7 linked regions of the Homo sapiens genome follow. The protein of the gene in region 1 purifies or fractionates together with the protein of each later gene. This does not show direct contact. Each region holds a gene or a part of one and is shown in the gene's direction. Other genes may lie near its edges. The genes, in order: TARS1, ITM2B, NAA50, AARSD1, GARS1, FARSB and UBLCP1.

The links.
Region 2: the proteins of TARS1 (region 1) and ITM2B purify together in Homo sapiens (co-immunoprecipitation; one large-scale study listed by IntAct). This does not show direct contact.
Region 3: the proteins of TARS1 (region 1) and NAA50 fractionate together in Homo sapiens (co-fractionation; one large-scale study listed by BioGRID). This does not show direct contact.
Region 4: the proteins of TARS1 (region 1) and AARSD1 fractionate together in Homo sapiens (co-fractionation; one large-scale study listed by BioGRID). This does not show direct contact.
Region 5: the proteins of TARS1 (region 1) and GARS1 fractionate together in Homo sapiens (co-fractionation; one large-scale study listed by BioGRID). This does not show direct contact.
Region 6: the proteins of TARS1 (region 1) and FARSB fractionate together in Homo sapiens (co-fractionation; one large-scale study listed by BioGRID). This does not show direct contact.
Region 7: the proteins of TARS1 (region 1) and UBLCP1 fractionate together in Homo sapiens (co-fractionation; one large-scale study listed by BioGRID). This does not show direct contact.

Annotation. Positions count from the first base shown.
Region 1 is NC_000005.10:33,457,965-33,461,464, forward strand, and holds part of TARS1 (threonine--tRNA ligase 1, cytoplasmic), read left to right. Parts: intron 1-601; coding exon 602-700; intron 701-1,730; coding exon 1,731-1,897; intron 1,898-2,937; coding exon 2,938-3,100; intron 3,101-3,193; coding exon 3,194-3,331; intron 3,332-3,500. UniProt on the Homo sapiens protein: Catalyzes the attachment of threonine to tRNA(Thr) in a two-step reaction: threonine is first activated by ATP to form Thr-AMP and then transferred to the acceptor end of tRNA(Thr).
Region 2 is NC_000013.11:48,239,706-48,243,205, forward strand, and holds part of ITM2B (integral membrane protein 2B), read left to right. Parts: intron 1-3,500. UniProt on the Homo sapiens protein: Plays a regulatory role in the processing of the amyloid-beta A4 precursor protein (APP) and acts as an inhibitor of the amyloid-beta peptide aggregation and fibrils deposition. Plays a role in the induction of neurite outgrowth.
Region 3 is NC_000003.12:113,739,750-113,743,249, reverse strand, and holds part of NAA50 (N-alpha-acetyltransferase 50), read left to right. Parts: intron 1-3,500. UniProt on the Homo sapiens protein: N-alpha-acetyltransferase that acetylates the N-terminus of proteins that retain their initiating methionine. Has a broad substrate specificity: able to acetylate the initiator methionine of most peptides, except for those with a proline in second position.
Region 4 is NC_000017.11:42,954,455-42,957,954, reverse strand, and holds part of AARSD1 (alanyl-tRNA editing protein Aarsd1), read left to right. Parts: intron 1-759; coding exon 760-817; intron 818-1,394; coding exon 1,395-1,551; intron 1,552-1,634; coding exon 1,635-1,751; intron 1,752-1,982; coding exon 1,983-2,113; intron 2,114-2,730; coding exon 2,731-2,797; intron 2,798-2,987; coding exon 2,988-3,079; intron 3,080-3,500. Other genes in the region: PTGES3L-AARSD1 protein, read left to right, coding at 760-817, 1,395-1,551, 1,635-1,751, 1,983-2,113, 2,731-2,797, 2,988-3,079. UniProt on the Homo sapiens protein: Functions in trans to edit the amino acid moiety from incorrectly charged tRNA(Ala).
Region 5 is NC_000007.14:30,618,878-30,622,377, forward strand, and holds part of GARS1 (glycine--tRNA ligase isoform 1 precursor), read left to right. Parts: intron 1-2,515; coding exon 2,516-2,623; intron 2,624-3,439; coding exon 3,440-3,500. UniProt on the Homo sapiens protein: Catalyzes the ATP-dependent ligation of glycine to the 3'-end of its cognate tRNA, via the formation of an aminoacyl-adenylate intermediate (Gly-AMP).
Region 6 is NC_000002.12:222,649,593-222,653,092, reverse strand, and holds part of FARSB (phenylalanine--tRNA ligase beta subunit), read left to right. Parts: intron 1-2,193; exon of another isoform or gene 2,194-2,807; intron 2,808-3,500.
Region 7 is NC_000005.10:159,276,790-159,280,289, forward strand, and holds part of UBLCP1 (ubiquitin-like domain-containing CTD phosphatase 1), read left to right. Parts: intron 1-1,448; coding exon 1,449-1,565; intron 1,566-3,500. UniProt on the Homo sapiens protein: Dephosphorylates 26S nuclear proteasomes, thereby decreasing their proteolytic activity. Recruited to the 19S regulatory particle of the 26S proteasome through its interaction with 19S component PSMD2/RPN1.

The DNA of each region.
Region 1 (3,500 bases):
ACTGCCTTGCACCCCTGACTACCTGACATTCCAGCTATGAGGCAGCCAGCAATGATTGATGGGCCCTTCCCTGAGGGCTTTTGGGCACTTGGGGAGGCGGATGTTGGCAAGGAGGTAGGAGGGTGTGTTTCTTTCACCATGACCCAAAGTCAGCCAACTTTACCATCATCTATTTCATTATCAGTGTCTTTTTCCCAGTCTCCTTCCTGATACTCTTACTAAGAAAATAAATACATACATAAATAAAATGAAAAAAGATCCAGATCTTGGAGCTTTAAGGAATTTAAGAACCATGAGAGGTACTGCAGTGGATAGTTAAAGAACTGAAGGGACCCTTATTCCCTGCCACTGTTGGGGAAACTTGACTGGATTGAGGAATATAACAGGCAGGGCATGTGTTACACGTCTGCCAAATTGTAAATCAGCTGCAATTCTATAACATCAGAAACACTGACATGGTTTCTTTGATTCAGGAGTGGCACTGATTGAAATATGGGACATCATGACCATATTCTGAGCTCAAGAACACTGAAATTTATGTATATATACACACACGTATACGTGACGTACATAAACATTCTTTTGCTTTTCTTTTACCCAGGACCAAGAACTATATTTCTTTCATGAACTCAGCCCTGGAAGTTGCTTTTTTCTGCCAAAAGGAGCCTACATTTATAATGCACTTATTGAATTCATTAGGGTAAGTCATATTTATTGCTTTCTTCTTTAGATTTAGGATATGTGATCATTTTATTAAATAAGGTCTACTAAAAGGAAAGATAATCTGTATTTGAGAAGAAATATATAAGACGATAAGTAAAAGTAGAAGTCTGTGGCCTCATAAATCATCCCTAATAGTTGATTTTGCCCATATACACATAGAAACTGGTGAGCTTGAAGGGGGACCTGTGGTCCTTGACATAGGAGCTCTGTGCCCTCTTTGACTTTGATCATTTATTTGTATTTTCTTTGAAAAAACGGTTTTTACATTGCTTTTTTCCTTTGTAAATTATGAAATGTTTCAAGTATAAGTTTATAGAGAATAGTATATCCAATATCTTGTACTTAACTACCCACATTTAACAAATATTCACATTGGGCTATATTTGCTTGAGATTTTTTCATTCATGATATTAAAAAAAAAATTAGTTGTTTAAAAAGCCTCTCTTTAGGACCCAGTTTTGATCCATATACCTCCATATACTGGTATATATATCCATATACTGGTATATCATATACCAGTTTTCTAGAAGAAACTACTGTTTTGAAGTTGGCATGGATTCTTTTTGTCCATGTTACTTATATCTAGCCCATGTATTTGTACCCTTAAATTATTTATGTATTTGTGTGTTACATATAGGAAGCCTCATTGTGTATCAGACTGCCTTGTGATTTATTTTTAGAGACATGCAAATCAAGTTTATTTTCACTTGCTACATATTATTTTGTTATATAACTACCACAATGCACTCATCCCTGTATTGATGGACACTGATGTATAATTGTCCCTTATTATCAGCCATGCTGCAGTAGCATCACTTTTATAAGCCTCCTTAGGTACATGTGCCAAGAGTTTTCTCTCTGGTATATACTTAGAAGTGGGATTTCTGAATCATGGCATGTGTCCATCTTTTTCATGAGAGAGTATAAAATCACTCTTTAAGTTTTTACTCCCACTTGAAGTATGAGCATTTATTTGCCTACACATGTTTCTGTTTATTTTCTATCAGAGCGAATATAGGAAAAGAGGATTCCAGGAGGTAGTCACCCCAAACATCTTCAACAGCCGACTCTGGATGACCTCGGGCCACTGGCAGCACTACAGCGAGAACATGTTCTCCTTTGAGGTGGAGAAGGAGCTGTTTGCCCTGAAACCCATGAACTGCCCAGGACACTGGTATTCGGCAGCTTTGAATTTCTACTGAAGATTTTCACATGCTACAATTCATCCTGGGTTCTTCCCTCCTTTAACAACATTTTCATTAAAAACAAATTATGTGATCAGAAGAGCATTTAAACGCAACATCTTTGTATTATATCTTCTGCACCTGATTAGATCCCCACTTTTTTTTTTTTTTTTTTTAAAGAGGTCTTCCAACTGGAGTGCAGGTATGCGATTATAGCTCACTGCAGCTGGGACTGCAGGTATATGCCACCATGCCCAGCTAATTTTTAAAATTTTATTTCTGTAGAGATGAGGTCTTGCCACGTTGCTCAGCCTGGTCTCAAACTCCTGGCCTCAAGCGGTCCTTCAACCTTGGCTTCCCAAAGCGCTGGGATTACAGGCATGAGCCACTGTGCCCAGCCAGATCTCCAGATCTGTGGGCATTCAGTAATGGTACTGGGATCATAGCAATGACCAAGGCAGACTATAAAACAGGAAGATGAAATATGGGGGTGTAACAAATTACCTAGTGTGTTGTTGTTTTAAAGAAACCTGTTCTGTCAAAACCTGCTAATGACTCAGCATTCTTGGAAAATGTTCCTTGTCATGAGGCCGCTCTGCTTTCTATCTTTGAAAGTTGGGTGAAGAACAGCTTAAGGGAAGACACAGGAGAGCTGTGGATACAGGTAGCTTAGTGTCTGCAGCTCCTACTAGCCAGGCCTGGAGGGCAGAGGAGGTGAGAGAAGAATCTTTGTGAAGAAGCTGTATTATAGGCTAGGGGACCAACCAAGTTCATTCTTAATTTTCCCAGATTCTTCAGTTGTTGGAATACGTTTTTTAATTCTTCACTGTGGTTCATTGAGTTATAACTTATTTGCTGTTTTATTCATGCAAGTGCTTTTACTGCTGTATGTAGCCCAGAATTTGAGAAATGTTGCTTGGATGGACAGCTAGAATCAGTGGCTTTTTGACAACCTTTCGTGTAATTAAATATAGCATTACAGAAGCAGTTTTATTCTTAAGTGTCCGTGGACTTTTCTTTTTCTCTTCAGCCTTATGTTTGATCATCGGCCAAGGTCCTGGCGAGAACTGCCTCTGCGGCTAGCTGATTTTGGGGTACTTCATAGGAACGAGCTGTCTGGAGCACTCACAGGACTCACCCGGGTACGAAGATTCCAACAGGATGATGCTCACATATTCTGTGCCATGGAGCAGGTATGAGACCCTGGGAATAAAATACTTAGAAAGAAGAGTCAAGAAAGTCAAGGAAAATAACTACTGTTTCTTTTTTTGTTTTTTAATTTGAAGATTGAAGATGAAATAAAAGGTTGTTTGGATTTTCTACGTACGGTATATAGCGTATTTGGATTTTCTTTTAAACTAAACCTTTCTACTCGCCCGGAAAAATTCCTTGGAGATATCGAAGTATGGGATCAAGCTGAGAAAGTAAGTGGTGTTTTTCAGCGTGCTTTTGAATACTGTTTGAAATTGGCTTGTTCTGAGATGTAAGAAAGCCAAGCCTCTTTAAATGGATAAAAGCAAAATGAAATTGGAAATGGTTCCTAGGTTTGTGTAAGCTAGTTTTTTTCTTTATGATTGTGTATTTTTGAAATGG
Region 2 (3,500 bases), on another chromosome or scaffold:
AGGCAAGCTAAAAATCAGTACTATTTTAATTTATACAACAATTTTAGCCCAAAACACTGAAGGCATGGGCCACTATTTTATAATCTCCTTTAAAGTGGAACGCAGGACTGGCAAATTATAGCCTATATCTTCAAATACTGCCTGCCTGCTGTTTTTCTGTAGCCCATGGGGTAAGAATGATTTTTATATTTTTTAATGGTTGGGAAAAATATCAAAGGAATGATATTTCTCCTTTTTGCCCAGTACCCTCACTGAATTGTTGGGGAGGGGCTGCTGCTATTCAGGAAGCAGCAGCACTAGCAGAATTCAGGTTATACAGTCATTCTTCAAAAGATTTAAATTTTGTCTCTATCACTTACTTTGATACCTTGGGTAAGTTACTTCAGTTCTCTGTGTCTCAGTTTTTTCATCAGCAAAATAGGGAAAATAATAATCTGTAACAATAATAGCACAATGCCTGGAACAGAGTTAAAAATTAGTAGATTTCAGCTACTGTTATTTTTATTTATTTTTTTGTTGAGAAACAGTCTTGCCCTGTCACCCAGGCAGGAATGCAATGGTGTGATCTTGGCTCACTGCAGCCTCTGCCTCCCGGGTTCAAGTGATTCTCCTGCCTCAGCTTCCCAAGTAGCTGGGATTACAGGCACCTGCCACTATGCCTGGCTAATTTTTTGTATTTTTAATAGAGACGGGGTTTCACCATGTTGGCCCGGTTGGTCTCGAACTCCTGACCTCTTGATCAACTACTATTATTAAAGTCCCAGTTTTCTCTCCTCATCATTCTTGTTTTGGAATATTACTTCTTATATTACTGTTACTGCTTATCCCTGCCTCACATGTCAGTAACAATATTGTTGGTACTTTTTTCACAGCAAGGCATTCTGGTAAAGATTGATTCCTGCAACATAAAAACCCTTAGGATTCAGTAGCTGTACCGATTTCATTTAAAAATGTTATTTATTCATTACATAATAGGTGTTAATAGAATTTGAGTTTTACCAAAGTAATACTAAATTTTAATATGCAAATATATAGTCCTGCCCTATGTCAGAGGAACATACTTTAAAAAAATTGTAGCATCATTGTATACAGTAAAATGCATAGATCATGAGTGTACAGTTAGATAATTTTAAGTCTGTATACCTGGGCTCTAACTCCCAATCAAGCTGAACATTGTTATCAACTCAGAAAGTTATCTTGTGTCCTTTTACAATTTGTTCTCCTTAGAGGTAACCACTATTCTAATTTTTCTCCCCATAGATTAATTCAAAGCAATCATATTCACTTATTAGCTTCTTATGGTCTTTTATTACCATGGTGACCACTAGACCCTCTTCTGCCTTTGTGCAATTTAGAAAAAGATCCCCTCTCTGGTGGTTTGGAGAATAGAGCATCAGTTGGTTTCTAGACCTACTGATTCCCTTGGCCTGGCATCCTTGTACTGGAAACAACCTGCCCAACCATACATGGCGATCTTAACTCCATGTTTCTCACTTTTTGCCCCAGTAGGGCGTGGTGCGGCGGGCAGCAGAGTCTTGCTCTGTCACCCAGGCTCGAGTGCAGTGGCATGATCTCGGCTCACTGCAACTTCCGCCTCCCAGGTTCAAGTGATTCTCCTGCCTCAGTCTCCCGAGTAGCTGGGATTACAGGTGCCCACCACCACTCCCAGCTAATTTTTGTATTTTTAGTAAAGACGGGGTTTCACCATGTTGACCAGGCTGGTCTGGAACTCCTGACCTCAAGTGGTCCACCCACCTCGGCCTCTCAAAGTGCTGGGATTACAGGCTGAGCCATAGCACCTGGCCCTCCATGTTTCTCTTTTAACTCCCTATTTCTCTAAATCAGTGGTTGTTAAACATTTTGCTCTGAGAACTCCTTTATAGTCTTAAAAATTGTTCAGGATCCCAAAGAGCTTTTGCTTTATGTAGGTTATATATATTTCCAAATAACCAAAAAGATTTAAGAAGACTAACAGTAACATTGTTTTACATTCGGCAGTGCCCTTTATTGAATAGCTTAATAGAAGATAGCCGGATTTTCCTATCAAATTCTTCATTCAGTCTGTTGTGATATGGTGCTTAGCTTCTGGAAAATTGCACTGTACAATTTTTATTGTATATAAACATAGCGAGAGAATGAAAGTGAAAATGACAGTTTTATTATTTAAACTAACACAGTCTTAGTTTTATTATGAAAAAAGTTTGACCTTGTGGACCCCCTGAACGGGTGTGTTCCTGGACCACATTTGCAGAACATCTATTCTAAATATTTGCTTATACTGCTGTTTCATGGTTTGTTTTCATTTGTTTTATTTTTTGCAGTTTTAGATAATACCTATTGATAATAGCTACATGGAAGGTGAATATTTAGCTTTTTCTGAATATTTACACACTGCACACATGATCTCTTCTCCTGTTCTAGCAATTTCTGGTTAAATTGATATTTAGTGTTTTTTATTATAATTAACATAAACATTAGTTACATTTGAGTATTGTAGTATACTTTTATTTTACTTCCATTCTTGTATAACAACTTTTTATTTTCCCTGAATTTGATCATGCTTCTTGGGGCAGGAGAGAGGGTTCCTTAATTTTCTACATACTTACTGCTCATTCATTCCTCAGACTCTGACAGCAGTATAATTGTCTTTCTGTGTCTTCAAACTCACCAGGTAACTTACCAAGTTTCTTTCTTTCTTTCTTTCTTTTTTTTTTGATGATTTCTTGCCCATCATTCATTAGTTTTCTATTCCAGACTGGTTGCACTCATACAAATGTCCTGAGAGTCATAATCATCTTGGAAGAATTGCCTTTGTCTTTATCACATGCTAGATCTACAGTTTCATAAATCTGAAGAAAAAGATAAATTTTTAAAAAATCTTACGTGTCTCAGAATCGTTATTCCATCCTCATATTTGATAATTTATCTGGGTGTAAAATTCTAGGTTAGCATTCATTTTTCTCTCAGCATTTTGATGGCATTGCTCCATTATCTTCTAATGTGATGCCATTCTGATTCCTTGTTTGTACATGACTTTTTTTCCCCCTTTGGTTGTCTACAGGCTGGTGATTTTCTCCTTATATCTTTTTTTTCTTTTTTCTTTTATGCTTTCAGCTTTCAACATTTTTATTGACATGACTTGTCTGCTGTCATTCATTTTCATTCTTTGTGGCTTAAGGTTTATTTGTTTTATCCCTTTACTGTCGCTTTATTGAGCTTTCAGGAGGAAGTAAACAAACATTTCACTGGAAATCAATATTAGAACTTCAACTTAGCTATCTTGATAGCTTTTTAAAGATTTGTTAGAATATTTCCTTTTACATTAAAAATTGACTTAATGATAATTAATAATGGATAATAATGGAAACCATCTGAATTACCATTAGCATTAATTTAAGATCAGACAGGATGGTCTAGAAAGATTGATGAGGCATCCTCTGATCGTCCTCTTCAAAGTTCCAAGATTGTCTCCTTCATGAGGAATTTTAGAGGCAACTCAT
Region 3 (3,500 bases), on another chromosome or scaffold:
TGTTGCCTATGTTGCCTATCATATTGAAACTTAAAACTTAGCTGGTTTTTCTTCATATTTTTACCATGAGTATTTTTATTAGTAGTAGCAGTAGGACTTTCCATTGTATTGGCATGTCTTTCCTCCATAGAAGATAAATTTCCGGTTATTAACTACTGAATGTAATTTATATGCACATGTAGAAGTTTGAGATATACTAGGAAATGTTGCTTACTTTTGAGGTTGGCTGTTTTTATGAACCAGGGACATTGTAGTTTGAATTTGTGGGTGATATTTTTATCTGTTCTTCTCTAGGGAAGGCGATTTCAAGCAAGAAGGTATGCCACAGATAACCATGACTGAGGTGGCAATGTAATTAGGCAGTGTAATGGAAAGTATAATAAAACCAAATCATTTAGCCTTCAATTGTAGTAAAGAGGTGCAAATTAGTTCTAATAAAAAATGTCTTTAACAAAATGTGAATACGTGACTAAGATGGGAAAGTAGGTAGCAGTAATATAAATATGGAACAATGTTGACTACTAATTGGAATAGTAAAGGGAGCCATTTTACCAAATAAAATTAAAATGTAAGATTCTGCAGTCAGAAACAAAACTTTAAAAACTCCGAACAGTGGTTACCTCTGACAGCATATGGACTGGGAAGGGGCAAAAGGAATGCTTTTTGCATCTCAGCATAGTGAGACCTTGTCTCTACAAACAATAAAGCAGCCAGGAGAATCACCTGAACCTGGCAGGTGGAGGTTGTAGTGAGCTGAGATCGTGCCACTGCATTCCTGCCTGGGCGACAGAGTGAGACTCTGTCTCAAAAAAAAAAAAAAAAAAGCCAGGCATGCTGGTGCAAGTCTGTAGTTCCAGCTACTTGGGAGGCTGAGGCAGGAGGATCACTTGAGCCCAGGAGTTCAAGGCTGCAGAGAGCCATGATCTTGTCACTATATTTCAGCCTGGGCAACAGAGCGAAAACTGGTCTTAAAAAACAAAACAAAACAAAACTTTTTTTAAAGGTTTATTGCTGTTTTGTTTTTCAGCAAAACCAAAAGCTAGTCAGGCTGACGTAGCATTTGACACCTTTTATAAACCTACAGTTTATACTTCTTCCTTCTGTGAAACAATTTGTGGTTTGTTGATTGAGATAGTGAATTTTAACAAATACTTTGTAATGTGCCCTTGCTGTGTTGAGATGAATTCATATAAAATATAACCTTACACCATAAGTTTTTTTAAAAAATCAATGTACTGTTCTCTCTAATATAAAAGAAAAATAAAAGGGAAGTAATTTATAATAAAATTTATTTCAGTATTTAATGATGTGGCACAACTATGCCATAAAGCATAAGATCAAGTGTTTGCATCTATCTGTAAATAGAATCATCGTGTAATTTAGAAAGTATGTCTGCTGCCTATACAGTTGTGTGCATTGTTGACTCATGTTGTGTTGCCATTAGTGGTGTAATTTCTTCCTGAAATTGCAGACAACTCTTAGGAAAGCTCTAAACAAAGAATAATCAATACTTTCTGAGTTGGAAAAGATTTTTTAAAGTCACTTAGTAGTCCAAGCACTCATCTTATTGAATCAAGATATATTCCCTGTTTATCATAATTTCAAAGATCCTTACTTCTGTTGTGTGAATATTATTGCACATGTGATCAGTAGAGTGGGAAGTGTTACTGGGACTCCTAATTTTTTCTTCCAGGTATTGCTTATGGCTTTCAGCTGTGTGATATCTGAAGCGATACTCTTTCTCAATTATTCAAATGATTGGCCTTCATCTTTTTTTAAATGCAGCCTGCAGTAACCAATAGAATACCAGTAGTAACCAGTAGACACATTCTTCCCATCGTGAACGTGAGAGCTATATTTAAGTCTATTCAATGCCTAACTTAATGGCACAATTTTATTGTTCTGTCTAGTACAGTCGTGACTAGCTACAGTTGGCGATTGAGCAGTTGAAATGTACCTTGTGGTCTGTGGCACAGTTGCCATTTCCCGGGTAAGATGTCTGCAGTCTGTGTACTGAGGACCTGGAGCAGGAATGCTGGGCAGCTGATTTGTTTCACTGTTTTCCAACATGTAGTAATGTTCATGTTTTGAAGCCAAATTATGTGTGTTTCTTTGATTATCCTTCATTCAAGTATAGTCATCCACATAACTTTCTGAAAACAATTAATGCTGTATGTGGACAGCTTGTTCAGTTCAGATTCTCAGACACTGAAGAAGGGATTAGAAAAGTAACTGTTAATGTTATGTAAAAGAAGGAGATACAGTGTCTCAGTTTGATAACATCGGTAAAGTTCAAAGTGATAAAGCTTCTGTTACCATCGCTAGTCCTTATGATGGAGTCATTGAAAACTCTAGCATAGTCTAGATGATATTGCCTATGTGGGGAAGCCATTAGTAAACATAGAAACAGAAGCTTTAAAGGGTACTGTTAATTTGTTTTACCAAATTGATTATTGTCCACCTTTTGTCATTGGGTCTCAATTAAAAGTGACCTTTAAAAAAAAAAAAAGAAAAAATGTGCCTTGTATGACAGAACTAAATTTTAAATTTTAAAGTGTGAAAGCTCGGATTCTCAGCTGGGTACTGTGGCTCACACTCGTAATCCCGACACTTTGGGAAGCCAAAGCAGGAGGATCACTTGAGCCCAGGAGTTCAAGACCAGCCTGGGCTATAACATAGTGAGACCTCATCTCTACAAAAAAATAGTAATCATAATTAGCTGGGGTATGGTGGTGTGTGCCTGTAGTCCCAGCTACTTGGGAAGTCAAGTTGGGAAAATCACTTGAGCTTAGGAGGTTGAAGCTGCACTGCATCGAGGCATGATAATGTCACTGCACTCTAGCCTGGGTGACAGAGGGAGACCCTGTCTCAAAAAGAAAAAACTCACAGTTATTGGTCCGTTTTTATGTTTGAAACAACTTAGATATGTGGATCTACTGCAGATTTTGTGAAATGTAAATACAGATCAAATATTTCTAAGGAAAATGAGTAGTTGAATTGGGCCATGCTGTAAGTGTAGTAAACTGGATTTTAAAGACTTGGAATAAAAAAAATTTTTAAGGTAAAATAAGTTTTATTTTGACTACATGTTGAAATGATTTCTTCCCCTTGTAAATGTGGATGCTAAACTTGAATGAAAAAAAACTTCTAAGGGAAAATAAGTTTTATTTTGACTACATGTTTAAATGATTTCTCCCTCTTGTAAATGTGGATACTAAACTTGAATGAAAAAGTTTTTAAGGTAAAATAAGTTTTATTTTGATTACATGTTGAAATGATTTCTTCCCCTTGTAAATGTGAATACTAAACTTTTTTTTGTTATATCAAGGAAGTCTTCCCAAGATATTAAACATTTTAAAATTTTGTATGTCACTTGTATATCTGTTGGACGGTCCTGTGCTAAACCCATAAAAAAGCCAAAGTTGTATAAAACAGGATCTTTTCCCTTAGAATCTACTTCCCATCCCAGATGGTAGATATTTCTAAATGTTTCAACTTGT
Region 4 (3,500 bases), on another chromosome or scaffold:
CCTTGATAGTTCCTCCTCTTTCTCCTTTTCTTCCTCCTCCTCTTCCTCTTCTTTCTCCTCATCATCACTCTTGTCAATCAGGGATGCTGCTGTATCTCTTATGTCAAGCCCTGTGCCTTGCATTTGGTAGGTACTCAATAAATACTTGTTGAATGGATGAATGCTGCATATTGGAACTTAAGTTCACTGGGCACAGTGGCTCACACCTGTAATCCCAGCATTTTGGGAGGCCAAGGCAGGTGGATCACTTGAGGTCAAGAGTTCAAGACCAGCTTGGCCAACGTGGTGAAACCCCATCTCTACTAAAAGTAGAAAAATTAGCCGGGCACGGTGATGCACGTCTATAATCCCAGCAACTCAGGAGGCTGAGGCACGAGAATTGCTTGATCCTGGGAGGCGGAGGCTGCAGTGAGCCCCTGCACTCCAGCCTGGGCAACAGAATGAGACTGTCTCAAAAAAAAAAAAAAAAAAAAAAAAAGGAAGTTAAGTTCAAGTCCAGCCCCTTATAAGTTACATTGCCATGGCAAGTTATTTGATCTCTCTAGGCTTCAGTTTCCTCATCTGTGAAATGGTATCATAAGGCCTCTTGCAGAATTCTCATTGTGATTTTCAATAAAGTATCTAAAGTGTATTACCCAGTGCTTAGCAGGTCTTCAACAAGGAGAATTTCTGTGCTTTTATCATTGTAGCTCATATTTTATCATTGTGGGAGTATGTAGGCTTCTCACTTTTCTCCTGTCTCTGGCTCTCTTTGCTTAGGGCAGCATCTCATCACGGCAGTTGCTGACCATCTATTTAAGCTGAAGACAACATCATGGTGAGTGGGAGGCATAAGACTAACTGTAGGCAGGCCCATCCCAGCACTGGGAGGGAGGCGGAGGTGGGAGAATTGCTTGAGCCGGGGAGATTAAGGCTGTGGTGAGCTGTGATTGCCACCAAATGGCAGCATGGGTGACAGCGAGCTTGTCTTAAAAAAAAAAAAAAAAAAGGCCAGGCGCAGTGGCTCACGCTTGTAATCCCAGCACTTTGGGAGGCCGAGGCGGGCGGATCACGAGGTCAGGAGATCGAGACCATCCTGGCTAACACGGTGAAACCCCGTCTCTACTAAAAATACAAAAAATTAGCCGGGCGTGGTGGCGGGCGCCTGTAGTCCCAGCTACTCGGGAGGCTGAGGCAGGTGAATGGCGTGAACCCGGGAGGCGGAGCTTGCAGTGAGCCGAGATCGCGCCACTGCACTCCAGCCTGGGCGACAGAGCGAGACTCCGTCTCAAAAAAAAAAAAAAAAAAAAAAAAAGTGGTGAGAGGGTATGCTTGTTCCAGTTTTTAGAGGAAAAGCTTTCAGCTTTTTCTTGTTCAGTAAGATATGTTATCTGTGGCCACTGTACTTCTGACAGGGAGTTAGGGAGATTTCGGAGTGCGATTGAGCTGGACACCCCCTCTATGACTGCAGAGCAAGTAGCTGCCATTGAGCAGAGCGTCAATGAAAAAATCAGAGATCGGCTGCCTGTGAATGTCCGAGAACTGAGCCTGGATGATCCTGAGGTGGAGCAGGTAAGGGTAGAGCCAGAGGGATGGTTTCTGCGGAATGATTCCTCATCAGATTCAGACAGTCCCTCCCCTCTCCTTGAGTCCAGGTGAGTGGCCGGGGTTTGCCTGATGATCATGCTGGGCCCATTCGGGTTGTTAACATCGAGGGCGTTGATTCCAACATGTGCTGTGGGACCCATGTGAGCAATCTCAGTGACCTTCAGGTAAGTGAGGAACGGCTGTGGAGTGGCTGAGAAGAGGGATTGGGGGAGAGGGGATCACATGGGGCTGGGAGTGGGAGAGGGGGATAATCGAGGAGTCCTAAGTGAAATCTCCCCTTCACTGTTTCAGAGCTGAGGAACAGATAGGTTTCTCCTGCCTTCAGGTTCTAGGATCCGCTGTGGTTTATGCATGTGCACACGTGTGTGTGTGTGTTACCCCCTTGCCTCATGTAGGTCATTAAGATTCTGGGCACTGAGAAGGGGAAAAAGAACAGAACCAACCTGATATTTCTGTCTGGGAACCGGGTGCTGAAGTGGATGGAGAGAAGTCATGGAACTGAAAAAGCACTGACTGCTCTGCTTAAGTATGCCTGTTTCAGTACCTTCGATTACCTCCCATTTCTGAGATTTTCGACATAATCTCTTACCTCTGGGAGATAAGATGCAATCGTAAATGATAAAGTGCGGCCAGGCGTGGTGGCCCACATCTGTAATCCCAGCACTTTGGGAGGCCGAGGTGGGCGGATCACGAGGTCAGGAGATCAAGACCTTCCTGGCTAACACCGTGAAACCCCGTCTCTACTAAAAATACAAAAAGAACTTAGCCAGGCATGGTGGTGGGCGCCTGTAGTCCCAGCTACTCGAGAGGCTGAGGCAGGAGAATGGCGTGAACCCGGGAGGTGGAGCTTGCAGTGAGCCAAGATCGTTCCACTGCACTCCAGCCTGGGCGATAGAGCAAGACTCTGTCTCAAAAAAAAAAAAAAAAAAAAGATCAAGTGCTTTGGATAGTAAATCAGAACCACGAAAAGTGGTTAATTCCTTTGTATGTTTTCTCCCAGTTGCCTAAGAGACCTCCTCAGAATATCTCCTGGTCCCTGACTGCAGGGAGGCACCATAGCAAGAAGGAAATTATTGATTTATGTCCCCAACATCAGAAACGACTGGGAAGCTGCGCAGGTCTCCTCTGACCTTTCTCTTTCAGGTGTGGAGCAGAGGATCATGTGGAAGCAGTGAAAAAGCTCCAGAACTCCACCAAGATCCTGCAGAAGGTGATTTATTCCATGGAGGGTAGAGAGGGCATGGGCCCTGCCTAGGATAGGCTCTGCAGACTTGGTCTTCTGCCTAAACAGATGTGTAGTTTGTCAAAGTGGGAGTGAGGGGAGAATGAGGTGGAGGGAAGCTGATACTCTCTATTGTTATCCTTTCCATTTATCTACTGAGTTACCATATCCATTTCAGAATAACCTGAATCTGCTCAGAGACCTGGCTGTGCACATTGCCCATAGCCTCAGGAACAGTCCAGACTGGGGAGGTGTGGTCATATTACACAGGTGAGAAATTAGGAGCTGGACACAAGGAAGGGGAACTGTGTTGGGCTTAGGGCTCAGTGTCTTCTCTATATGCAATGTACAGTGGGAGGTGGATTGCTCACTGGTATTCTCAAGGTTGAGTAGATCCTAAGAAATATGTTACTGGCCGGGCGCGGTGGCTCACGCCTGTAATCCCAGCACTTTGGGAGGCTGAGGCGGGTGGATCACAAGGTCAGGAGTTCGAAACCAGCCTGGCCAGCATGGTGAAACCCCTTCTCTACTAAAAGTACAAAAATTAGCTAGGCATGGTAGTACGCGCCTGTAGTCCCAGCTACTCAGGAGGCTGAGGCAGGAGAATCACTTGAACCCGGGAGGCAGAGGTTGTGGTGAGTGGAGATCACGCCACAGCACTCCGGCCTGGACCAACAGAGTGAGACCCCAT
Region 5 (3,500 bases), on another chromosome or scaffold:
TAATAGTAATTATTTTTAGGATTATGGGTGATCATTAATTTCTTTACACTTTTTAGATTTTCTGGGACTTCTTTTTATTTTCAGATCAAACCAATAAAATGTTTTTCCTTTTGTATGAGAAAAGATTATTACTTTTCTTTTTGTTTCATACCCAGCTCCTTCTCTTAGTTTGCTCTGATTCTGATTTCAGATTAAACCAGATGTTGTTCTTGCTGTCTCAGTTAAGTAATTTGCTTAAGTCTCACAGCCAGTGAGTGGTGAGGCTGGGATATAAACCTGGCTGTCTGACACCAGACTCATGCTCTTAACAGTTATGCTGTACTGCTTTATAAACCCCACTGGATGCCTGCTCGTCCTTATCTAAGTGCCATTGTGAGGGTTAGGGATCAGAAAATGGAAAGTCACTGGAAAACAGGGCTAAATGAAACAAGAAGCTCCAGAGTCCCAGAGGCTCTTAAGGAGAGGGGAGAACTCCCTTAGAGAGTTTAATACTTTTTGTGTACTTTATATATTTTTTTAATAAAAAAATTTACCGTTGCAGTTAATGCCACACCAATTCTCTTTCCATCCAGAGAAGTAACCACTATCCCAATGTTGTTATTCTCAGGCACGTTTTTGTAATTTTACCTTTCAGTACATAAATGTTAGTTGACATCTGCAGTAAATTATAACCACCAAACTATATGGTTAAGAACATAAGTATACTTAACCAGTCGACATGTATAGGGAATGTCAGATTGCCAGGTTACATGTTTTTAGGCTTTGTTCTTTAATTCCTTTTGTTGTTGTTTTGTGTTGGAGTTTCTGAGCTCATATGAGTTTTATATTTGCTTGCTTTATTACAGACACCCCATGTGATAACATGTGCTTGGAAAGCTTAGTAGTTTTTTCTTTTTTTCTTTTTTTTTTTTTTTTTTTGAGACAGAGTCTTACTCTGTCACCCAGGCTGGAGTGCAGTGGTGCACTCTCAGCTCACTGCAGCCTCTGCCTCCTGGGTTCAAGCGATTCTCCTGCCTCGGCCTCCCAAATAGCTGGGATTACAGATACATGGCACTGCACCCAGCTAATTTTTGTATTTTCATGAAGACAGGATTTCTCCGTGTTAGCCAGGCTGGTCTTGAACTTCTGACCTCAGGTGATCCACCCGCCTTAGCCTCCCAAAGTGCTGGGATTAGAGACACGAACCACTGTGTCTGGCCAAGCTTAGTAGTTTTGATGGTTGAATTTCCCCAAACTCTTTGGATCAAGGGCAAAAAAAAAAAATGAATCTTCTTGAGAAGGACTAACTAGGTATCTACCAAAATAAGCTCTTTACAAACTCTTGTTCTTATTGAAATAACGGGTTCTTAAGAGTTTGTCATAGTTGGGGTTTCTATAAGAAAGCACCACATACAGAGTGGCTTATAAACAATGGACATTGATTTCTCACCGTTCTGGAGGCTGGAATTGAGAGATCAGGGTGCCAGCATCGTCTGATCCTTGTGAGGGCCCCATTCTCAGTCGCATACTGCCAACTTCTTGTTGTATCCTCACATGGTGAAAGAGGGCAAGAGAGCTCTCTGGGGTCCCAAATTCCAGTGATTAGGGCTCCATCCTCATGACCTAATCACCTCCCAAAGGCACCTCCTCCTAATACCATCACATTGGGAGTTAGGATTTCAATATACGAATTTTGTCAAGGACACAAGCATTCAATTCATTGCAGGTTCTTTGAAAATAATTTAAATTTTGCTTTTTAAAAGTATCTTATGTGTGTATTTATAAGAAAGGGAACCTGGCATCAATGTGATCATAATGCTCTTATATAATTTTATTGTGTGACCTGAACTTTACCCACTCTTATACTGAGTTTTCTTTTGTTCAGTGAAGAAAGTGAATTGAATCCAAATGCCCACATTTATGGCCAGCTGAAGTATGTGTTTAGTCAGCCATCTGATATCAAGTTGTGAGAACACTAGGTACTTCATCTAAAGAATAGTGGTTTCTGCCAAATTCATTTTGATTTCTGTTCACAAATTTGAACCAAATTTACAGGCTTTGTCTAGGTTCACATTTAATTTCCATAATTAAATTCCAGAATATGTTAGTTTACCCCACAGACTCAGTATAACAATATAAATCCATCCAGAAAGGAAGACTACTTTGTGTACAGTGTGAATTATATATTTTTTTCTTTCTTTTTTTTTTTTTTTTTAAGATAGGGTCTCACTGTGTTGCCCAGATTGGTCTCAAACTCCTGGCCTCAAGTGATCCTTCCACCTCAGCGTCCCAAGTACCTGGGATTACAGGCATGAGCCATCACACCCAGATCAGTGTGAATTATATTTTATAGGCTTATTAGCTGCCTGATATATGAGGCTATTCCCATTTCAAATATTTATGAAATTTGAATGAAGATTATATCATCGAATTATCATTGAATATATGAAAGGTTTATAATCTGCATGCATTTGTGAATGAACCCAATATAAGTAATAATAAGTAAGTAATGTTTTTATTGATTATATCTTTTTAGGGTTGGATTGAGATTGTTGGATGTGCTGATCGTTCCTGTTATGACCTCTCCTGTCATGCACGAGCCACCAAAGTCCCACTTGTAGCTGAGAAACCTCTGAAAGAACCCATATCCTTTCTGGTCACTCCAAAAACTCAGGATTCACATGTGAACATCTTGCTAATGAATAAGTCCAAGTCTTTACCTTGTTCTATGGATAAATGGAGATGTTTTAGACACTGTAGTAACGCTTGTTTAAACCTATTATTTTACCTATCCCTTTGTTCCTTTCCTATTCTCTGTACTTGTAGTCTGACGTGTGCCCACTCAATGTTTGGCCTTTAAAAGAAGCATATTTAGAAAAATGCTCTGAATATCTTTCAGAACGTTAATAGTTTTTCTCAGCTGTTTCCAAAACGCACTTCACACCTGCACCTACCTACGTGCTCTTTAAATAAAGGGTACCTGGTGAAAGCTTTTTCCATTAAAAGATGAGTGCCATTTGATAGTAGCTGAAATAATAATTTAGCTCACTTGGTCTGAAAATCAGCAAAATAGAAATTTTCTTTCTTTAGTAGGCAGTGAAGTTATGAGCTGATTTCTTAGGGGTAGGTCAGTGACAGGAAATAGATCTTGTTTTGAGCATTTTAGAAATACTTATCAGAAGTTCTTATGCTATGGGTTGGGTCATTGCTGATTAGATAATATCTCTTTTTTCTCACTGTAACTGGAAAAGTTTCTATTGATGGTGTTAATTTTGGATGAGAGTTGTCTGAATGATTTTGTGGACAGGTGTTTCATCTTGCCTTAAAATCAGCATAAACAGGATCTGGAGTACTGATAGAGAGCTGGCATGGTTTTAAGTTGATGATTGATTGTTCTCAGGCTCATTTTCTGAAATACTGAGGCAGTGCTGTAGTTTTGGATTCCTTGACTACTTCATACAAAACAGTCAATGTTGTTCAGTTTGAACCCAGTAAGGGAGCAATTGGTAAGGCATATAAGA
Region 6 (3,500 bases), on another chromosome or scaffold:
TTCTGGCGTGGTGTAATAGCTGGCAGTAGTGGCAGAACCTTCTGTGTATATCATATACACCCCTAAGGTGTGGTTACTTGATGTGTCATTTCGTTAGAGGAAATTAGTAATCACGATTTTATTGTTGATTTTTCTTTGTATAGAAACCCATGAAATAACAGCTGAAAGGAATAAAACATATGATAATTAGGATTCAGCGTATTTTAATAGTTCTGTACCACTTAGTTATCTATTACTGCATACTAAATTATCCCAAAGTTTAGCATCTTAAAGCAGCTATCATTTGTTATATAGTTTCTGAGGGTCAGGAATTGGGGACTGGCTTAGCTGGGTGGTTTTTGCTCTGGATCTGTTACCAGATTGCAGTCAAGGTGTTTGCCAGATCCGTAGTCATCTCAAGGCCTAACTGGGTCTGGAGAAACTGCTTTCAGGTTCATTCAAGTGGTTGTTGGCAAACCTCAGTTCCTTGCTGATTTTTGGCCATAGGCTTTAGTTCCTCCCACCTTATCCTCTCCATAGGACTACTTAGCACATGTTAGCTTGTTTGCCCCAGATGGAGAGGTCCGAGAGAGTAGGTAAGTAAGAGAGTGCCGAGGATAGACGCCTGTTTTCAATAACAGCTCAGAAGTGATACACTAGCCCTTCTCATATTCTCTTGATCACAGACCAATCCTAGCACAATGTGGAAGGGAACAGTACAAGGGTGTGAATACCAGGAGGCCGGTATTATTGGAGCCCATCTTGGAGGCTGACTACCACCGTTTCCCCTCTAACCTCCACTGATTCAGTTCCTCCCATATGCAAAATATACTCACCCCCTCCCAAGGCCCTCAGAAGTGTCATCCCATTACAGCAGCAGCTCAGAATCTAGAATCTCATCATCTAAATCAGGACCAGATGTGGATGTGGCTCCTTGGGTGTAGTTCCTTCAGTATAGCTTCTTTAGTACACTGTTGGCCTGAGAGACTCGAGAGACCATTTATCTGCCCCACATATACCTAACATACAGTGGTGGGATGGGCATAGGATAACTCCTGTAGCCCTTCCACTTCAAAGGGGCGGAAATGGGAGACACAAAGGAGTCATTGGTCCATGGCAATTCTGGAATCAAGTGGCAAATGTTGGATGTTCTTGATTAGGTCTGAAGGCCTGGAATAATTCTCCATGGCTGTCTGCCCTGCCCTCTAGGCTCTTGGTTTCCACCCCTCTGAGTGATCCCTAGAAAGCATGTGCTTTACAGCTGGTTGGTTTTCTCAGTCTACTTACTGCTAATAGAATTTTGAGAGTTCAAAGACTTTATTTTATCCTATTTCTATCCCTTTCAATTCTAGCTGGCAATGCTTCTGCATATGTATTTCTTCTAAAAACTTGGAAGGTCTTTGGTGCATGTTACTGGCTTCCATTTTATTAGTCAAAAGCCACACCACCTACACATCTCTGAAATATATTGAGTTTCTGCTGATAACAGTGCTCTTAATTAAGCCCTATTGTGTGATTAATTGGATTTATGAGGTGCATTCTTTATAATTTTTAATAGCACCCTTTGTTGGAATGATTAGTGCCTTTGATCTTTCTGGGTCTTAAGATTTTATGGTCATATCCTTGATTTTATCTTTGGACCATGTTTTCCTGGCAGTGCCTTGGATTTGGTCTTTGCTCAGAAGTTATTTCTTAATTTTAGCATTGTTTCACATCTGGAGAAGATGAGAATTTTTTAAATCCCCAACATCCTGGCTCATTTTTGTTTAACAGCCTTTCCTTTAGCTTATCTCTTTTTTTCACATAAGCACAAGAAAAACCCAGGTGGCACTGTGAACACTGGTTGGAAATCTTAGTTACATCACCCCATTGATTTTTTACAGTCCACATTACTGCAAGGAATGGTGTTGCTAAGCCTTCCGCCTCTTCTTAACCAGGATTCCTCTTCTTCTGCTTTCTGATAACATTACCTCACTTTCCTCCATGTCCTCACCTGCATCCTTACCAAAGACTATGAGGCTTCTTTCTTGAGGTTTTCATTTACACGCCTCAAAGCCCACTGCTTGGTTCCAAAGCCATTCCCATGTTTTTCATTTTTGTTACAGCAGTACACCACTTCCAGGGACTAAAGTCTGTATTAGTAATCTATTGCTATGTAACAAATTATTCCAAAGTATTAGTAGTCTGTTGCTACGTAACAAATTACTCTGGTACTTAGGAGTGTAAAACAAGCCTTTATTATTTTACAAAATTTCTGAGAGACAGGAATCGGGGAGTAGCTTAGGAAGGTGGTTCTGGCTTTGGGTCTCACCATGTTGCAGTCTAGCTGTCAGCTGGGGTTGCTGTCATTTCAAGGCTTGGCTGGGCTGGAGAATCTGCTTCCAGACTCACTCAGGTGATTGCTGCAGACCTCAGTTCACACAGGAGCATGAATACAAGGAGGCAGGGATCATGGAACAGGCCGTCTTGGAGGCTGGGTACCTATTACTACCTGCCCTAGTTAATGATATCCCCACCCATTTTTTCCCCCAAACCAGAGATCGGGGAGTCATCTTAGACTCCTTCTACACACTCCCTATTCCTACCTCCCATCATTCGGCCATCGAGCCTTATACATTCCACCTCTTTAACGTTTTTCATATTAATCCCTTCTTCCTCATTCTTGCTGGTGCTGCTTTAAATGAAGTCTTCACTATCGCATCTGTACTATTGCAGTAGACTCCCTGCTCCAATCCATCCTCTACTCTGCGAGCAGTCTTTAGAATGCAGATCTAATCATGTTTTTGCCCAGCCGAAGAATCCCTTCAGTATAATTCTCCATTGCCTGCCTGTAAGAAAGAGGGCAAATTGTTAGTTGACCCCTTTCTCCTTGTTCCATCATATCTTCTGATATGAACTTTATGTTTCATCCATGTTGAACTACTTAAGAGTTTCCAAATTTGCCATGCTGTTTCACGCCCCACAATCTCTGCCTAACGAACTCATCCTTTCTGTGAAGGTTTAGCTGACCATAAGAGAAACTGATTACTTCTTTTGTGCCAGCCCTGTACCTTGTACTTAACACAGTCATATTTATTTACACATCTGGCTTCTTTACTAGATGAGGAAGTAGTTAAGGCAGGAATTGTGTTTTATTTATCTTTGTAACCCTGGTACCTAGTACAGTGCCTGGTATAAGGTGGGTACTCAGTACATAGATGTTAAATTGAAATTTAGTGTCTGAATCAGGAATCTTAAGACCAGTTTTCGCTAGAATATACTGCTAATGATGTTTTGTGTTCAATTTTTGGTAATGTGAGAACCCTGAAAAGCTAAACAGTAGGATATAATATTAAAATAAGGAAGAGAACTTATTTTATTAATTGCTAATAAACTATTAATTATTGTAGACTCACTGTGTCTCAGGGTACTATGCCAGGTCCATTTTATGCATTAGCATTTAAATCTTTCCAATAGTACCATGCCATAATGGCTGTGAAATACCATTTTATAGATGAGGCAGCTGTAATGTTGACACAAGA
Region 7 (3,500 bases), about 130 Mb from region 1:
AGAACCTGTCAACTCTCTGAGGCTGCTCTTGTTTATAAAAATGCCTGGAGTCAATGTATCAGAATATTGAGTTGTTGCCCTTGGTACTGACTAGATTATTGATTTAAAATTTTCCTTTATGCTTTTCAGTATTTTCATGTTTTTTTTCTGTAGTTAGCAATATTACTTTTCTAATTGAGAGCAAAGTAGTTTGTGTTTTGGGGAACATAGGTGCTTGACCTAATTAACAAATGACAGCACTTTTTAAGAGGATGTAGGATTTTTATTCTGGATGTCATAAAAAATGACCTCTGTTGTCATATTTCTTGAGGCTTTTGTTAGCTAAAAATCCACAAAATATGGCTTATTGTATTAATTCTTATATATTTGTCTTCATTTCGTGGGGGGAGTAGGGGGCGGTTTCTATTTCGGTAGTAAACAAGATCAGTAGCAAAAAAAAATCAGGAAAGTAAAATTTTAGTAAATTAAAATATTTCATTAACATTTTTTGTAATAGGCAAGACAATAGGAAGGAAAAAGCTTTCTCCAAATTAAATTATAGGAGGAAAAAAATTTTTAAGTTACAACTTTTATCACTATTTATTTCTTACCACTTAATCTCATATATTTATTATTACATTCTGTTCTCATAATACCGTAAGACTTCTGTCTTCAGCAAAAGTAATTTTCTAGAAATTTAAAAAATTTTCTGAATGTGTAATACATTTGCATGACTAAAAAAATAGTAAAGTACATAATGAAAAGTCATCTTTCACCTGGTACCTAGCCACAATCAGTGTTATTTCCTGTGTGGTCTTACAGAGACTTTACACAAATACCAACAGGTAAGACTATATAAGAAATTATTTATTTGAAGCTTCAGTTTAAGAATTCAGAAATAAGAGTAAGAATTTGTAAAATATGGTGCTTCCGAAGTTAAGCAATCAAATTCCCTAGAAATTATGCACCTGTGCCACTGAGTTAAAGACAAAACGAGTTTTTCCTCTATAAAATATTCAAATTATTAATTGAAAAAGCCAAATACAGTTTTTTTTTGACTAGGGTGTTCTAGTTTTGAAAGCAGACTCCATGTGACTCCCAAGCTCTGAGAAGGAATGTGTTAACCAAGGAAGTCATGTGACTGCATAGCAGACATCTAAACAATTACTTTGGATTTTTAAAAAATTAAATAATTTATTTATTTTACCCAAAATCTTCACGTTAAAATTATGGAAAGTTTTATAATGGGTTTAGTTCAGTTGGACATGAACAAACCTTTCAGAAGTTTTAATATTGCAAAATGCATTGTGCTTTAAAGTGGGTTGCATTTAATGATTAGCTCACACCTGTCTTACAGGGGGAAAGGAACACTTTGGCATTGTTCTGCAGGGCAGTTTGCAGTATTCCTGCTTTTAAGACAGGATGAAATATTGATAAAATTTGAGTTAAATGTAAACTTTTATTCTAAGGTAAAGCCTCTTGGTGTTATATGGGGAAAGTTTTCGGAGTTTTACAGCAAGAAAAACACCATTATGTTTGATGACATAGGGAGAAATTTTCTAATGAACCCACAGAATGGACTAAAGGTAAGACATACTTTTACTTGTTATGTGCTCATGTAATCTGGGCTGTGTGGTAGAACTTTTGTAGTAAGCACTGTTGAATTTCATATATTTTTGGAAGTACTGTATTCTTATGTCATAGGCGAGAAAAGTTTAAGAATAATTCATATAGAAATTGAACTTTGTCTTTTTTGCATTGATGTCTCCATAGTTAGCTAGTTCATCCAAGTATTTGTTTGTTTATTTATTTATTTATTTTTGAGACGGGATCTCACTCTGTCGCCCAGGCTAGAGTGTGGTGGTGCGATCTCGGCTCGCTGCAATCTCCACCTCCTGGGTTCAAGTGATTCTCCTGCCTCAGCCTCCTGAGTAGCTAGGATTACAGGCACGCACCACCACACCCAGCTAATTTTTGTATTTTTAGTAGAGACAGGGTTTCACCATGTTGACCAGGCTGATCTCAGGCTCCTGTCCTCGTGATCTGCCCACCTCGACCTCCCACAAGTGCTGGGATTACAGGCATGAGCCACTGCGCCCGGCCCAAGTGTTTTATTTTTAATTAGCTCTGTGGGAGCAACATGGGCTTCCCAACATTGACTTTTAGCATCCAAAGTGAAATCATTAGTTATTTTTTTAGGTATACAAATCTTGGCATTTTAAACATTCTGGTTAGCTTGAGAAATGGCAGTAAGGGTACTTTGTTTTTTCTTTTTAAACTGAAACTAAAGACGTTTTTGAAAATTCCTAGACGGCAAGTACAGATCTTAGAATTAGACATTGCCAGAGCTAGAAGGAACCACAGTCATCTCTTGCCTACCTTCTTAACTTTGGAAACAGTCTGAGGTTGAAGAAGTTCCTGACTTGCCCAAGATTGTATATGTAACTGGCTAATGACAGAATTTGGGTTAGACTCTAGTGACTTGGTTCCTAGGTCAGTGACAATCTTAGCATGCAACTGCATGCAGTCTTATGTGACATTTCATCCTGGTAACAGTATAAAATTGGTAAGAGTGAAATTTGAAATTTAAAAGTTTCTGGTACCCATAGTTGATTACATGTTGGCGCAATATGAAAATGGAAAAGATAGCTCTATACTATGGCACTATTGCACATGGAGTCTCCATTCGAAGTGGCAGTCCTGACACTGAGATGTTTTCATTCTCAGTCCTAAACTTTTCTACTAGCTGGGTCCTTGGTAGTTTTAAAAGACAAGAGAGAAAAACTTAAAAGTACATTTTTTAAACCTTTCTTACAGACTGTTGATTTGAGTTTTTGTTTACAATGAGGATATTTTAGGGAAAGAATACTAATCTAGGTAGTGAATTGCCATAAGTATAAAAACTGTTGACTTGGAAGAAAAGTGGTTATGTTGTCCTTAATGGTTTCTGTTTAAGGCTTGGAGAGAAGTGCTTTTCTTAATATGTACTGCACCAGGTAAAGGTACAAAAATGTATTCTTGAGTCTTGAGAAGAAATGTGGTTGATGTAAACCTAATTGTTTGTGAAACGAATGGTTATTACCTGTTCTTGCAAGGAGGTGATCCCATGATGGTCAAGGAATAATTTTGGAGGAGACGTTTAACTTTAAAAAAAAAAATACAATCATTAGTTTCATGTTTGTTTAAAAGAAACTTTGTTTTCCTAACCAACATTTGAGCTCCATTCATCTCTTGATGCAGGGAGAGATGTTATTGTAAATGTCTAGTTCTTTATGTTACTTTACAGTAGGGTTTTTAAAAGACTGTACTCAGTAGACCCACTGAAGGAATTCCTAAAAATACGTATGTCCCCATCCCCTAAATTCTAATTCCAGAGGTAGATTTAGACACTCCACAGGCTGTCCTTGTGTGTCTTTTATTGAAAACCTCTTTTTTATAAAATTAATCTACCCAAGATAACACTTCATGAAAACCTCTTTTAAGGTTAAAGATTAAAGGTTAAGATTAAGATTAAAGATCTG